Regions from separate parts of the Homo sapiens genome. Here region 2 is linked to region 1. The links come from fine-mapping of genetic effects on gene expression. A gene starts in region 1. The other region holds a variant in brackets. All regions are shown on one strand. Distances are from middle to middle. Region 1 holds the start of FAM81B (family with sequence similarity 81 member B). Region 2 overlaps FAM81B (family with sequence similarity 81 member B).

Evidence for each region. PIP is the estimated chance that this variant, and not a neighbour inherited with it, causes the effect.
Region 2: its variant is fine-mapped to the expression of FAM81B in whole blood (TOPMed, PIP above 0.99). The same link has a PIP of 0.9 or more in blood mononuclear cells.

Annotation. Positions count from the first base shown.
Region 1 is chr5:95,388,886-95,394,279 of GRCh38, reverse strand. It overlaps FAM81B (family with sequence similarity 81 member B), which reads right to left and starts at 2,914. Exons shown (of 10, transcript NM_152548.3): 1 at 2,767-2,914; 2 at 1,383-1,486. The coding sequence starts at 2,890. It overlaps LOC105379089 (a long non-coding RNA gene), which reads left to right and starts at 3,108. Exons shown (of 3, transcript XR_948586.1): 1 at 3,108-3,210. RefSeq lists an enhancer at 897-1,754.
Region 2 is chr5:95,411,664-95,417,057 of GRCh38, reverse strand. FAM81B (family with sequence similarity 81 member B) reads right to left here. Exons shown (of 10, transcript NM_152548.3): 4 at 2,868-3,111. Among named protein-coding and RNA genes, the nearest start is that of FAM81B, 23 kb to the right of the region's middle. The variant A/G (reference allele first, on the strand shown) is at 3,148.

The sequences.
Region 1 (5,394 bases):
AATTAGATCTATGTTTTATTTTTATTTTATTAATTTTTAAGTCTTACTTGAAAGACCACAAGTAGCATCTTCTTAAAAACACACCTACAACACACACTATTTAAGTGACAAATGTTAAGCATAACAATGGAGGAATATTTGGAAAAGTATAGAAAAGTTAAAGATACAGAATAAAAATTCTCGCTTGTAATTTTGCTACCTAGAACAAAAGCCACTGATGTTGGCTTTTGGTGCAATTTTTTAAATGTAATTTTTAGGTATCTAAGACAGTATTTAAATTTTTATATCTTTGCTAATTGAACATAAGAGTCAGTTCTGTTTTATCCTCATTCCTATAAGCTAGGATGTTATTATATATAAAAACTGTCTCACAAACAACTTGATGGCCACTATGGGAATTTTTTTACATATATCAGTTTTATCCATTTCATAATAATGCTTTGAATGTTATAGCTTTTTGGTTTTATGGGCTATGAAATACGTTCTTGTATATGACATAATTTTATTTGACATGAATGCCCTATAAAGTGGATATCATTACCTTCCCATTAGTGTAAGGATGACATTAGTTACCTTAAGAAGCTGAAACCCTTATTATGGAAAGAAATTAAGATGACTATTTTTTATAGGTGAGGAGCTTCAGGATCAGAGAAGTACGGGACTTGCCCAAGATCATGTAGATGATGATGATAATCATACTGTAGCCCTTCCTACTTGCTAAGCACTTACTTAAGTGACTCATTCAAACCCACAATAACTTTGTATGATAAGCCTAATTCACCCATTTTACAGAAGAAGAAACAGAGGTTAAGTAATCATTCCAAAGTCCCACAGCTAGTATGTGGTACAGCCTATTATATAATACATACCAAAAATCAATGTTTGATATTGTGCTAGTGCTTTATGTAACAAGTGACTGCATCTGCCTCTTGTTATGTAAATTACAAGGTGTTAAGAGAAGTGCAAAAAAAGTCTAAAAACACTGCTTTAAAAAATGTTCTTTTTAACGGAGAAGATACGACAAGTTCTAATAAAGGAAACATTCTATTTAGCTATACCGGTTTTCATGTTAGAGATAAAGATAAAGTCTGCACCTTGAGTTTATCATGGTTCCTTTTGAATCATCATAAAACATACATAATGATCAACTTAAAAGAATTTTAGCCCCATATATTAAAAATCAGTCTAATTAATGAAATTGTAAATTGAGGTCATTTTTCTTTTCAGCTTGTGTTTTCAGCAGCCATTTTGCCAAGACAGAACAAACAGGAAATGTGGGAGAACTATTCTTCCAGAACTTCTTAAACTCTCTAAGCACTCTAAACTTTAAAGAAGCTGAGCAAAGTATTCTACTTTTAATGTGAATATTGAAAAGTACTTGCTTTCTTTTCTTGGTTATTGTCTGAGCCAGGAAGGGGGCCATCAGGTTCAACTGGCTGTTCCTCTGCAGTCGCAGTTGGAGAGGCACTTTTGTTTACATTTGTATCTAGGTAACCAGAATGCTGAATCAGGTCAGGAACTATGACAAGTGAATTTTTGCAGTGCTGCTAATTTTTTTTTAATTGAGGGCAGTTTCTGTACATATAGCTTGGCTTAAAGGGAGGCTTTCAATTTGCTTTACATTTCCCCTCTCCTCACTTATCCCAATTCTCCCCCATCCCCCCATAACATCTATAGTTAGCTAGAAGAGCATTTCTTTACAGATACTTCTATAAGACCTTTAGAAACTTTTTTAGGATCAGACAGCTCTAAAATAATCAGGAATGTATTTTTTTTAAATTATACTTTAAGTCCTGGGATACACGTGCAGAACATGCAGGTTTGTTACGTAGGTATACACGTGCCATGGTGGTTTGCTGCACCCATCAGCCCATCATCTACATTAGGTATTTCTCCTAATACTATTCCTCCTCTAGCCCCCAACCCCCAACAGGCCCCAGTGTGTGATGTTCCCCTCCCTGTGTCCATGTGTTCTCATTGTTCAACTCCCACTTGTGAGTGAGAACATGTGGTGTTTGGTTTTCCGTTCCTGTGTTAGTTTGCTGAGAATGATGGTTTCCAGCTTCATCCATGTCCCTGCAAAGGGACATGAACTCATCCTTTTTTATGGCTGCATAGTATTCCATGGTGTATATGTGCGGCATTTTCTTTATCCAGTCTATCATTGATGGGCATTTGGGTTGGTTCCAAGTCTTTGCTATTGTGAACAGTGCTGCAATAAACATACGTGTGCATGTGTCTTTATAGTAGAATGATTTATAGTCCTTTGGGTATATACCCATTAATGGGATTGCTGGATCAAATGGTATTTCTAGTTCTAGATCCTTGAGGAATCACCTCACTGTCTTCCACATGGTTGAACTAATTTACACTCCCACCAACAGTATAAAAGCGTTCCTATTTCTCCACATCCTCCCCAGCATCTGTTGTTTCCTGACTTTTTAATGGTTACTATTCTAACTGGCATGAGATGGTATCTCATTGTAGTTTTGATTTGCATTTCTGTAATGACAAGTGATGATGAGCTTTTTCTCGTATGTTTTGGCTGCATAAATGTCTTCTTTTGAGAAGTGTCTGTTCACATCCTTTGCCCACTTTTTGATGGGGTTTTTTTTTCTTGTACATTTGTTTAAGTTATTACTCTGTTGTGCCCAAGCCTTCTGAGGGTCTTCATTGGGATTCATTATTTTGTTTATATGTAATAAGAAACAGAAGAAAGATAGTGAAGTAGGAGAAATTTAGAGACCTCGAATAGTCCATAAGTACCTGAACTCATGATGCTTGCTTTTCCAGCTTTATTTTTTGTAGATTTGATATTTTTGAAAAACAATCTCTGTGATTTTTTTCTTTTTTCTGAGGAAGCCAATGTACCAAGGAATTGTAATTGCATCCTAACTAAGGTCTTCCTGTTTCTGGGGCCTCTTCCCAAGGGTGACTTAGTAGCATTGTGACTGCAGGAAGGATCTATGATGTCAGTGTGGCTGGCCCTCACAACTGAAGTCAGGAAATCCCTGGGATTTAGAAGCTTTGAATGTTTTCTGTAGTGCTCATCATCATACAAATCACTAAGCCTTTCACTTCTTTGTCTCATGGGGTGGGAAGTGGCCATTGTTATACTGATATTTCACACTCTTCTCCTGATTTCATCTTCACAGTTTGAAAAGTGACGAGTTATCATCAAGCTAGACAAAGAGGAAATGAAATGCTGCGGTATGCCCAAATCTTTCTCCAAGTATGTTAGGGAGGAAGCTAACTCTTCTAGGTTAGAAGGGGACTTCACAGATAGTGCAGCACTGATGAAAAGTGACATGGGTCAGAGTTTTACAGAAATGAAAATATTGAACTTTGCCTTTGTAGGGGAAATTTTGTTCAGTTATTTAGCCAAAAGGGGGTGGATTGTTTTAGCTGTAAAATGTTTGTCTGAGTTTTAAAATTAGAATTTGCATGTTTGTTAGTACTACTTGGCCTCCATATACAGAAATGATGCTTTGGCTAAGTTGTTGTCCAAATTATGGTATCAGATTTGCCTTGTTTAAAGGCACACAATGTTCAGGATGCTGAGTGACAAACTTTGATCCCACAGATAAAGGACACCTATGATTTGGGCTTCCATGCATATCCCCTAGTCCTAAGCTAAGCCCTTAAAACTCAAAGATGCAGTAGTTCATGGTTTGCAAGCAGTCCAAAAGGCTCATTATGCTACCCTAATCACCATTGTATCTAGTGCCAAGGGAGACTGACACACAGCAGTGACTAAGAGCAGGTGGCTACAGATTCTGAGAGAGTGGATTGGAACCCTGACTCCTCAACCTACCAGCTGTTTAGTTTGGACAAAATTACATCACCTCTTTAAGCCTCAACTTTCTCCTCTGTGAAATGAGCTAATAATATCGATCCCATAAGATGGTTGAGAGGATTAAATGTAATAATATACTTACAGCGCTCAGCTGAGGGCGGTGCCAGGAATCCACTAAAAGATAACTATTATTAGCGATTATTTCACAAGGTGCCAATTATCCAAGAAACAGTCACAAGCAGAGTCTGTGTGAGAAAGAAAAACTAGATTTAACCTTGCTTAACAACTTTTTAAGATTCTTTCTCTTCTTAAATTCAGCTTTTAATCCATGGTATTTGGTTAGAAAAATGGGCCCTACTAAAATGGACAATTTTGGTAGGTTTGTTCTCTAAACATAAATGGCTATTCAATTTTAACATAACAATGCACATAATATATATGTATATTATTAATGTCTGCTCTGGTTTGAATCTCTCCACCAAAACTCATGTTGAAATGTAATTGCCATTCTTTTTTTTTTTTTTTTGAGTTGTAGTCTTGCACTGTCACCCAGGCTGGAGTGCAATAGTGCGATCTTGGCTCACTGTAAGCTTGGCCTCCCAGATTCATGCCATTCTCCTGCCTCAGCCTCCCAAATAGCTGGGACTACAGGTGCCCACCACCACACTCGGCTAATTTTTTGTATTTTTAGTAGAGACAGGGTTTCATCGTGTTAGCCAGGATGGTCTCGATTTCCTGACCTCGTGATCTGCCCACCTCGGCCTCCCAAAGTGCTGGGATTACAGGCGTGAGCCACCGTGCCTGGCCTATTGCCATTCTAATAGTATTAGGAAGTGGAGGCTTTAAGAAGTGATTAGGTCATGAGGGCTCTCTCCTAATGAATGAATTAAAGCCCTTATTGTGGGAATGAGTTAGTTATCATAGGAGTGGGCTCCTGATAGAAAGGATGAGTTTGGCTTAGTTTATCTCTTTCTGTCTTGCATTCTTATTTCCCTTCTTGCTATGTTATGATGTAATATAAAGATGTATCCTCTCAATCTTGGACTTCCCAGCCTCTGGAACCATGAGCCAAATAAATGCCCAGACTATGGTATTCTTTTTTTAGACAGAGTCTTGCTCTGTTGCCCAGCCTGGAGTGCAGTGGTGCGATCTTGGCTCACTGCAACCTCTGCCTCCAAAGTTCAAGCAATTCTCATGCCTTAGCCTCCTGAGTAGCTGGGACTACAGGTGTGCACTGCCATATCTGACTAATTTTTGTATTTTTAGTGGAGACGGAGTTTCACCATGTTGGCCAGGCTGGTCTCAAACTCCTGACCTCAAGTGATCCACCCATCTCAGCCTCCCAAAGTGCTGGGATTACTGGTGTGAGCCACCATTCCAGGCCCCAGACTATGGTATTCTGTTATAGCAGAAGAAGATGGACTCAAATAGCTTCCCACTTGTCTAAAATGCATATGTAAAATCCTTCTCAGAAGTCAATAATCTTCATATATCTTTTCTAATCTAGGGCTAATAAAAGCACAGAAATTAAAAATGTTCAATTTCAATCTTTAAAGTGGCCTTATACTATAGTATATTTAATATAGATCTAAAGACAT
Region 2 (5,394 bases), 23 kb before region 1:
TTAAATTATTTTTATTTTGAGACAGGGTCTCCGTCGCCCAGGCTGGAGTGCAGTGGCATGATCATGGCTCACTGCAGCCTTCACCTCTTGGGCTCAGGTAATCCTCCCACCTCAGCCTCCCAAGGAGCTGTGTCTATAGGCGTGCACTACCCTACCCAGCTAATTATTTATTTTTTCTTGTAGAGACAGGGTGTCACTATGTTACCCAGGCTGTTCTCAAACTCCTGGGCTCAATTGGTCCTACTGCCTCAGCCCCCCAAAGTGATATTTCGACATTAGGACAATAATTAAGCAAATCATGGTGTATGCACCATGCAAAGAGATTTTAATGAGACATGATAGAGTTTAGGATGAATGTTAGAATAAAAATCATGCTTACAAACATAGTCTCAGCCTCCTAAATGGAATACTTGGAAGGACTAAAGGGAGATTCATCTGGGTATTTGTAGAGATCACCATTTGGTGGTTGAATTGTGAGATATTTTTTCCCCAAGTTTAAACATTTTTTTCCTAAACTTTCAAAATAATTATGATGAACAAGTATTGCTTTTGTAAGTTGAGGGGAAAACCCACAGTAAAACAATGCTATATATAAAATTTTCTTTGAGTTAAAAATAAATTAATTCTAAAACTTGTAATCAACTGCCTTCTTAAAAAAAGGAATCATTTGATTTTTAAAAAGAAACAAGCACTTTGATGCAATTGTGGTAGATTAAAAAAATTTTTTTTTCATTTCATTTATGGACCTGTGTCAAGCTTTAGCTCACACTTGAATTGATCTTGATAGCCAACTTGCAAATGGGCTGACCTGGTTAATGAGGTTAGGTTCTTTTAAAATACTTGAATAGCATCCATTTCTCTATAAAGTGCATATAGTTATTTACTAAAGGTAGCTGAATAGTTTCTTCTTCATAATGTTTTAACTATGTTATCTACAGCCTTTAAAATATTTTCTAGTTCAATTTTCCACAAACTCAATCCAGTCCTTTTCATTTTCCTATATATGCCAAACCCTTAATAGGATTGTAGGTATTTTGAGATTTTTGTCTTTGTCTTTTGGAAAATGTTTTGGATTTGTCTTTTTTTAGAGAGCTAATCTAAGATAGTCAATTATTACAGAAAAATAAACTGTTTACAAGATTTCTAGAGATTTGAAAGAAAGACTTTCTCCTTATTGCTAATAGTATTTTACTGGGGTATAATATGTATTGAACGCACAAGTCAAAGTGTACATCTGGGCGGATCTTGACTCAATGTAATGTAATCAACCATATAACAATCCAGATCAAAATATAGAATATTCTTAGAAACAGTTCAATGTTTCTAAGAATGTTGTTGGCTTTTTCAATTACCAAGAAGTTTTGACTCCTAAATTGGAATCTTATTTTAGCACTATGCTGTACTTACTTGATTTTCTAGTCATTTCAAAAGGCACAGGGCTGCTTGCCTCTTGTCACTTTCATGATACTTCATTATGCATGGAAATACCTTTAATCACTTTGAGAGTGGCATTGACCTTTGAAGCACTGAGGTCAATTCAAAATGTGCTAAATACCAATAAAGTGCTTTTTAAAAGTTCACTGAGAGTTTTAACTTTTCACACTGCCTCAGGTACATTATGGGGTCTGTTAAACCCTGCAGATGGAAAATGAATTAATCAATATCCTTGCCCTTAAGAACAAATTCACAAAGGAGTAATTGCTGGTTCAATCCCATAATTTTAATAAAATCCAGTATTCTCTTTGATAGTAGAAAAGGACAAGTATCGTGAGACTGCATTGTTGTCAATTCTCATGATAACTCCACAAGTTTTGGGCCAGTTTCCTAAAGTACACTATCTGTAGCCCTTGCATGAAAATTGTTAACCCAGATTCATCACGTACATCTGCACCCTAGCAACTCTCGAAGACCTCTTACACAAGCATGTTTCTCTTGATTTAGACAAAGAATTTTCTTTTTTTGATGAGAAACTCTATTTTTACTCTAATGCCTTAAAATTAATTAATTTATTCATTCATCAATTTAAGGAATATTTAGAGTGCTGACTACAACACCACTGTTGTCTGGTATGGGATATGGGATTTAGCATGAAGAAAACAAACTCTTTGACTTTATAGAGATTATATCTTAGAAAGAGAAAACAAACAGGAATCAAATATAGACCATGGTAGTTTGCAATGAGTGCTATGTGACAAAAAAAATAAAGTAGGCTTTAAGGGAGATTGAAACCATGTGGGTAGAGGTGCTATTTTATAAAATGTCATGCAAATCCTCTGTTACGAGGCTATATTTGAACAGAAACCTGGAGGAATGAAGCACGTTGCATAGGAATATCTAGGGGAAGATGATCCAGCCAGAGTGAATTATGAGTGCAAAGACCCCAAGGCCAGAATGTGTTTGGAATGTCCTAGGAACAGCTGGGAGGCCAGTGTGGCCAGAGTGAAGGAAAGAAGGGTAGAAGACGGGGCTAGAGAAATTGCTGGCATCAGATTGCAATGGCTATACAATGGAGCGTTACTGATGTGCATTATGAAAACCTCTATTTGAAGTTATTGCATTAATAGAATCTTGGAGATTTAGGCTAACATAAGCATCTTAGCACAATGTCTGACATAATGTCTTTGTTGTCACAAAATAAATATACAGTAAATATTTTTTGAATAGAAGTTCCTTCTACTTTTTGGCATAAATGAACAGCTGAAAAATTGAACTGTTTCCCTCTTAGACCACTAAAATGTAATCATCTAAACTTAAGCAATAGTGATATATTTCTGCACTTGAAAAATGACACTGATGGTTGATAATCTTTATCAAGCAATGCTGCCAAAATACAAAACAAAAACAAAATAAAACAAAAAGAGAACTACCTCAATATTTTGGCTGAGTTTTTTGACGATGCTGGTGATGGTCTGGATGTGGCTTTCCAGTAACTTCCTGGCGAGCGATTCCTCTTTTCGAAAGCCATGGGTCCCCTGCAGGCAAGCAGAGATGTCCTCCTTGATGCGGAAGGCTTGTTCAAGAAGGAAAGCTATGGTACGCGCCTGGTTGTTCAGTCTGTCTTCTAGCTGACCTCTCTGGGTGTTTGGAATGATGGGGAGAAAAGCATGACTCCTGATCAGAAAAAGGAAAAGGAAACACCAGGGCATT[A/G]CAAGAATGAGCTGGAGGAGCCAGGAACCAGAACTAGAATCCTCACTTCTGATCCTTTATTTTTGCCCTGTGAGAAGTTTGATAGGATTTTAAGCACTTGCCATGGTTAGAATTTGGTGAAGGTCTCATCTAAGAAGCAGATGCACTTTTCATGCTTCAAGCCAATTGGTGGTAGTTAGGAGTGGGTAGAGGCATTCATGAAAGAAGATGTTAGAAGCCTTCTTCCAAGACTGACGCCTTTATATACCCCTTATGAAAATTCTACTTTAACGTAGAAAAAATTAAGTTTTTATAACTATAAAGATGCAAAAGTGACTGTGTTAGAGAGTTTTCCAAGGTGTGAGTCCTGGAATAGGAGTCAGGAGGATAGGCCACCACAAAAGAATTCTATGATCAAATACACTTAGAAAACCTTGCATATGATGTCTCTCCCTTAGAGATTCACATTGTACATTTTCATATTGTCTAACAGAATTATTCTAATTTCATAGTTAAGGAAATTAGTTCATGAATGGTACCAATCATAATCCCAAAAGACATAATCTCAAACATTGAAATTCCTAAAGTTTAAAATCCCTTGACTGGATTAAGGGATACCTAGAACCTGGTGTAGCAGTGTATCTTGTGAGGGTGTTTCCAGAGGAGATTAGTGTGTGAGTCTGAGTGCACAACGTGAGAAAGATCTATTCTCAATGTTTTGAGTGTTTCGAAAATCATAGAAAAAGTAAAAACACAGGTGAAAAATATAACAAATGTCCCCTGTCAAATGATTCAATCATGTATGACTTCTGCCCCTTCACACATAGTGCCATGCTTGCCTTCAAAAAACACTCTTCATCAGAGAATAAAAAGAATTCCACAAGCTGAGCAACATTCTGAACCAAAGATGCTTGCCGATATAGAGGTTCCTCCAGTGTTCTGAAACTCATTGAGTGATGAAATATTCTTAGTTTGGGATTTGACTGTCAAAGAAGATAGACTTCCTATATTTGCCACTAAATCTAACATAGACAACCTAGTGCATCCTTCACTTTGGCTGAGGAATGACACTTTGAAAATCGTCCCCATCTTTCTTATCAACTGTATGCCATCATGCCCCAGTTGGATCCAAACATTCTTGAACTTACCTGCTTCTTTATATATTAATGACTGGAAAAAGTAAAGCACTTTATAAACATTTATTTGAAGATTTGGTGGACTTTGCAGAAGAAAATGGATTTTAGTAGAATCCCCAAACCATGACAGATTTGGAATTAAGTCCCTTCAAGGCTTCTAAAAGTGAATCTCAAGGTGTCATCAATAAAATTTGTTTTTGTCATTCAGCCCAATGCATATGGTGAAAAATTCAGACAAGTGAATTGGCCACCCCATATGGTTTAAAAATATTTCATTTGTTTGCAGTGGCATTCCTCCCAGCTAATGACATTTTAGGAAATTTTAATGAATTAAAGCCACATTTGCCTGAAGAAGCCAGCAAAGTTACCAACTGGTTCAAATATAATTATGCACATAGTAAGATAAGAAGACACACAATAGTGTGACTATTTGATTATCAGTATTGCTTCTGCATATGAGTGCATGTGGAATGAATTTCTGTGTACCGAAAACAGCATAGAAAAATTATGCAAAGATGGAAATATTTAATAGGGATTGCTCATGTTGGTGTATGTCGAATCATAGAAGAATTTCAAAAAGAGCAGTGCTATGTGGAAAAGGAATGAAATGTGAACATATTCTCTGACGAGAGTCATGTCTTAAAAAAAAAAGCAGCAATTCATTGCCATGCAAGACTTCAAAATATGACTGTGAATGTTGGCCAGCTCTAATGGACTACCTCCAGGCAATTGCCCATAATGTATCCCTGTAATATACTTTTTCAAACGTTGAATTTTCTTTCTAGTTCTTTCCCACTATCTTAAATTGTCAGCATTGTTATTATTACTTTTCACAATTTGCTATGCTGTGTATTTCATCTTCACATCATTTGCAGTACTGGAGTATAAATTGTATAAAGACTTTCAGAAAGTTCTAATTTGTTTTATGTATATTTTGTCAATTTGACTCCACAAAAGTGCATTATCACAACATTGACTTTGTGTGTAAGCATTGTGTATGTAAAAATGTTGAAACTTCCCCAATAAATGAAGAGATGTCCTTTTTTGTACAACTGCATTTGTGAAAGATAAAATTTCTTAAGATCTCAGCTCTTTGTGCAATTGCATATGCCGTAGTGACTCATTGAAGTTT